2 separate regions of the Homo sapiens genome follow, and region 1 is linked to region 2. The links come from fine-mapping of genetic effects on gene expression. A gene starts in region 2. The other region holds a variant in brackets. All regions are shown on one strand. Distances are from middle to middle. Region 1 overlaps DUSP14 (dual specificity phosphatase 14). Region 2 holds the start of DUSP14 (dual specificity phosphatase 14).

Evidence for each region. PIP is the estimated chance that this variant, and not a neighbour inherited with it, causes the effect.
Region 1: its variant is the best candidate, but not a certain one, in a credible set for the expression of DUSP14 in tibial nerve (GTEx, PIP 0.58).

The regions. Positions count from the first base shown.
Region 1 is chr17:37,511,896-37,514,802 of GRCh38, reverse strand. DUSP14 (dual specificity phosphatase 14) reads right to left here. Exons shown (of 3, transcript NM_007026.4): 3 at 1,305-2,622. The coding sequence starts at 2,530. The coding sequence ends at 1,934. Among named protein-coding and RNA genes, the nearest start is that of DUSP14, 23 kb to the right of the region's middle. RefSeq lists an enhancer at 1,633-2,146 and a silencer at 1,905-2,295. The variant A/G (reference allele first, on the strand shown) is at 1,581.
Region 2 is chr17:37,488,215-37,491,121 of GRCh38, reverse strand. It overlaps DUSP14 (dual specificity phosphatase 14), which reads right to left and starts at 1,231. Exons shown (of 3, transcript NM_007026.4): 1 at 1,164-1,231. RefSeq lists an enhancer at 1-131.

The sequences.
Region 1 (2,907 bases), 24 kb before region 2:
AGGCTACTAAGCCTTTTCTTGGTCTTGTCTTTGTTGGGTTGATTTCACATAGATGCAAGTCACTAGGATGAACAGGGGCCCATGCGCTTAAGATTACAAAGGTGTTCAGCTTCCCACGTGCGAGGAACTCTTAGTTACAGCCCCGTAGTGCTGCTTGCCAGGAATTCTACAGGTAATTTTCATTAATTACCAAGAACATCTGTCACCAGGTGTCTTCTCGCCCTAGGACAATGGTTATTTGGGTGCTCTTATTCAGAAACTCCCAGACTCAAAGCTGAGCCTCCTACTAAAGCAGCCAGAGCCTCCCTGGATTTTTTTTTTTTTTTTTTTTTTTTGATCTTATAGCATTTGTTGTTTCCTCTGATTTCCCATAGAAACTATTAATAATTTTTTTCATTTTAGTTTTTCTAGAGAATAATGATGCATGTTTATAACAGTGGGCAGCCACGGGTATAAAGCAATAAAAGGTAGAATTTAGATGGGAAAAAACCATTGCCACAAACCAGGTAAAATGTGGAGTATATTTGTCTAAATATGTAGCTACTGGCCTATGTATGGCTTCCTGCCAAAACTGACCCAAAAAATCTAGAAAACTATTCCTCTGGTGAGCAAGCTACAACCTTCCTGATAAATGAAGCCAAAGAGCAGTGCCGCAGCGGGTTCCCATTGCACGGGCAGACGCCCAGGATGCCCTCCATGCAGAAGAAAGGCATGCCCTAGGACAGTGGTTACTTGGGGGCACGTGGAAAGTGCCCAGGAGTGTCCCAGGAGTGGGACAGGGGCGAGCTCATTCACCTTCTACCATGTATCTGATGATGATGAGCGGTGCTGCCCGTTTTATCAGGAGCAGTGAACTGGGTGACAGACAGTCCCAAAGTTAAACAAAGGCAGCCATTGTTTGTTTTTGTTACTTGCTTATCGCTCATACTGAGGTTTGGTTTAGGGCATTTTCGTATGTGGTAATAATAGTCAAGCAGAGGCACCTTTTATTGAAAACCAGTTTCTCTGATGGAGGACACGCTGCTTCGGGGCGCTCCACTAACCAAGAGGAAACCAAAACCAGCACCCCTGATCAGAGCGTGCACTATCAATCATCTCCCACCGGCCCAGCACCGGGGACGGTGTGTCTGCCTGTCCACCAGGATGTGACGCGCCGACAAGACTCTGCTGGGATGTGTATTTTAAGTAATGTTCCCAACTGGCACAGGAGCCACATTTCAGCAGTTAGTTAGTTAGTTACTGGAGAGCACCTTTTTCCCATCATCGACACACACACACCTTGAAATTATTAGTAAAAATTCTAATATGTTAAGCATATAGATTTATTAAAAATAATGCTAATATAATCCTGGGCACATGGATTCCAAGAGAGATTTTGCAGCAGATTTCATTATAGTTACTTAACAGCTAAATAATAAGGGTGTATTTAACTTACTTACAGAGTCACTAAATAATGGAGGGGAAAGGAAAGAGTAGGGCTAATCCAGTAGAGACTGAAGCTGGTTATCAACCTTCCCTAAGCATCTGTCTGGTCCGCAGCCTGGGGCAAAGCTTGTCTCTAAAGGGTTAATGAGGCCCCA[A/G]AGTGATTTTTGCACTGAGCTCCTCCTGCACCTACCAAGGTGCCAAAGGCATGAGATTCAGAAGAGAGCAGAACCAGTTTATTAAACTGTTCAAATTGGTAAAAATGATTAAAAGCTAAAGATTTCCATAAACACTATTCCAAAATGTTAATTTTAAAAATGTGACTAGCAATGTATGCATTCCCTTTATGTCCCCTCCCTCCCTATCTCTTAAAATAAATTTGAACACCCAGTGTAAAAAACACTTGAGGGAGAACCAGAAGTCAGCCATTTGAGAAGAGAGTGGAGAGGGAGCAGACGGCGGGGAGCAGATGCCGGCCCCGCTCGGGCTGCTGACGCAGGCTTCAGTGGCACTAAATCCCCCAGTAAGGCATCAGGTGTCGGGACTCCTTCTCATAGACGTCGGGAACTATGCCATAAGGTGTCTGTACCATTTTAACTGTCGACTTCCCAAAGAGCTGGCGCTCGTAGTCTATCAGTTGCCTCCAGAAGCCTACGTTGGGCCTGATGACAGGTCGCCGGGCTTTCACCCAGTTGTACGCCTCCAGCAGGCACACGTTGTGGAATTTCATCAGGTACGCGATACACAGCGTGGCTGAGCGGCTCACCCCTGCAGCACAGTGCACCAAGGTGGCCCCGTGCTTCCTGCTCACACTGTGGATCTTGTCAGCCACGGTGTCAAAGTACAGTCCAATGGGGGCATGCGGCATGTCAGCCAGAGGCACTTTAACATACTCAAATTGGGGCCAGTTGAAATTAGGGATCTCAATGGTAGCATTAACAATGCAGGTGATGCCACGAGCCTGGAGGAGGTGCCGATTGGAGGCCACACTGCCTCTGCCCAGGAATAGAGAGGAGGTGATTTGAGCAATGCCTCCTATGTCTCCCTCGGAAATCATCCGAGGGGCCATGAGAGTCCTTGGTAGCGTGCTGTGACCTCTGGAGCTCATGAAGACGCCAGCAGTCACACTTGCATCGTTGGCGGCAAGACCAGAGTGTTTTATTTTCCTCCACCAAGGAATCCAAAATTAGAGTCTCCTTCCTGCAAAATACAGGTATGTGTCAGTACTTTAAATGCTACTGATTCATCACAGCCTTCTGTCACATTTGTCAAATGGGAAGATTAGAGGGTTTTTTTTTAAATAATACAGTACAATCTTTCAAGGATACAGACAAATCATTTTCTATCAATTAACAGTTGGGAAAAGTCACCTAAGACACAAACATGTGAAATCAATGTAAAATTCAGCTCTCTGGTGATTGTCCAAAAAAAAAAAAAAAAAAGTGGGGTGGGGGGGGGGTGGCTGGGCATGGTGGCTCATACATG
Region 2 (2,907 bases):
TAGAGAGCAGGAAGGAAATGAGCGGAGAGAAACTGTGACTTGTCCAGTGTTACTTAACTTTGTGGCAGAGCTGAGTCTCAGGCATGGAGCTGCCGGCTGGCCTCGGCCTCTCTGACTCTTAAGTGATCTGTAGAATGTCAGGGAGGACGGTCCAACATTCCATCATACTTCTGAGTGGCCTTAGGGACTAGGAATTCCAGGAGACTCTGGGTTAAATCTCTTGGTCCCTATTCTTTTAAGGTTACTAAGGATACCCGGAGTTTGCTCTTCGCCTCCGTTTTTACATCTGTAAAACGGGATGGTAACGCTCTCCACCCCCCTCTCTTATAAAACGATAATGAACAGCTAACGAGTTAACACACACTAAATGTCCGGAGGTCCTGCTGGATAGAAAGTACAAGGTGGTTTTAAAAAAAAAAAATCTCTGCATGGTAAAACTGCATTTGTAAGTCGCTCCTCCTTCCCTAGCCTCTGGGATGCCCAGTTACCATAACACTGGCTGGTACCACTGGCAACATCCACCTAAATAAAATACAGTTATACAATCCACTTAAGGCGGCCACAGCACGCACCCCCTCTTTACAAACAACAACTCAACTTCGCTCCGGAGCAAGGGTACTTAGGAGAAATAAAAAGACAGATGTTAGCACCGCGCACACCCATCTACCACCGCAGAGAAAGACTCAAGTTGGACACTTGGCATCGCTGAAAGTCAAGTTGCTTCTATCCATGCACCAGAAACCTCGGGGAGATGCAAAAAGCGGCGGCGCGCTCCAGAGCGGGTGGATGCCAGCGAGAGTAGGCGGCCTCAGCGGGGTCGGAAGGCGACGGAGGAGGCGCGGCCGAGGCTGCTGGAGCCCCGGGGCACAGGGACAGGGTCGCGGGGGCGGCGCGGCGCGGCGGGGGAGCGGCAGGGGGCGCACGCTCAGGGCCGGCGAGGGTGCGCTGCGGAAGGTCTCGGGCCTCTCCTCCGCGGGCCGCCCCGAAGAGTCAAGGACCGCCAGGGAGCAGGTGGGGGCGCCGGCACAAAGTTTCCAGAGGCGGGGTCGCGCGGGCCTCTGGGTCCCCCTGCGCCCAGGGACCCGAAGCGCGAAGTCCCGCCCTCCCGCCCCACCCCAACACCTTCCCCACAACCCCCACCCCCGGGCCTGCGGGTCCCCTACCGGCGCGGCGCGGCGCGGAGCGGGTTGCGGTTAGGGCTCCGTCCTCCTGCGCGGCCACCGGCTTCTGCGGGCTGGGCGCCGCGCGCGCCGCCTCCTCCTCCCTCCGCCCGCGCCCGGGGCGGGCCGCGCGCACGCTCCCTGCGCCTGGCCGCCCTCTCCCGAGGTGGGGGGACGCGACGCGGGGCGGGGGGACGCGCGGGGCGGCAGGCGGCGCGCGTGCGCGCTGGGCTTCTGCGCCGTGCGGTGTGGTCCGGGCGCGCCCTAGCTCCCGAGGCAGCAGCCTCCCCTAGAGCGCTCCTCCGTGCAGGTCCCCTGGTCTCTTACCCTGCCTCACACACCGGCGACCCCTCGCTTCCCCAGTCAGCGTCTGCGTATGAGCCGGGCTCGAGGCGGGCTGCGGGGGCGCTCTGCTGGGGTGCTTTCGGGATTGGAGAGGATTAAAGGCGAGAAAGCAAATCCGATACAGGTGTGAAGCCGCCGCGGGTGGCTCGGGACGGCCTCGACCCCACCCCACCGCCTCCCTAGCCCGGAGAGCCCGGGGGTTGGGACCCAAGAGCGAAGGGAAAATCAGTAGCGCGGCAGTTCCTGGCTGACGCTTGCTGGAACAGGTACGGGCAGCCGTGGCGCCCGAGACCCGGAGGTGAACATGCAACCTCCGTGCGCATCTCCACCTGCTCTCGCCACGCCAAGGTGCCGTCCGAGTCTCGGAGCCCACACCCACCTCCCGAGTCCCCGAGGCAGGGCAGGGGTTCTCCGGAGCGCAGGCGGGACACGGGCATTTGAGGGCTCATTTGCTGTGTGACTCTGAGGGTCTTTTAAAATTCAGGTCTGCCCATCTGTAACATAAGTCGGTGCGAAACGGACGTTTTCCAGCACAGCCCCGCCTCCCCTCCGCCTCTGGCAGGTGAAGGGAGACACGTGGGAGGCAAAGCGACTTCCTCAAGGCTCTGCCGTGAGTCAAGGCACCTAAGAGTCCTGACTCCATGCCCAGTCCTTGACTCACCAGCCCCTGCTCCTCGCCGTTGCAAATGGTTGGCCTCAGAATTGCTGAGCAGTCAAAACGAGTAGGCATGGGTTTGCGGGGAGGGGTGGAGGGGAGAAGTAAAACCCGCGTTTGGGGTTTACATCTCCCGATGTCCTCAACCAAAAGCTTTGAAGCTTTTTCATGTTCTTCCCGATCTCCACTGCCCAACCGGCTTCAGAGTCATCCGGTGCGTGCTGGACTATCTAAAAGTTAGTGATAATTTTAATCATAATCCTGGGAAACGAAAAAGGCCCAGACTAGAGAGATTTATTTTCGTCTTCGTAAAAAGAGAATCAAAGCTTTAAAATTAGGCAAAATTAATCTAAGAGAAAACAAAGCAGCATACTTTGCTAGATTCAGGAAACCACTGAGTTCAAATCGTGCCTGGGAAAAGCATCTTCCTAAAACTAAATTGTGACGTCAGTTCACTTAGTGACTTACTTGTTTACATGCCAATACGAAAAGAGCAAATCTCTAACAGAAAGGATTGTGTGTTTTCATTTCTGCTCAGCACCCCCTAGTCCTTGAAGCTTCAGTCAATTCAATGACTCAGCAACACAAATAGATGCATCCCTCTTCACATTCCAGCTTGTTACACTGTAGGCAGGTTTCCAAAACAAGCTCTAGTGACAAGGAGCTAGGCATTTTCATGGATTATGGGAACTAAACCTACCATGAAGAGTCAGTGAAGAGGGAGGTGGGCTAAAATAGAGTTTGTGT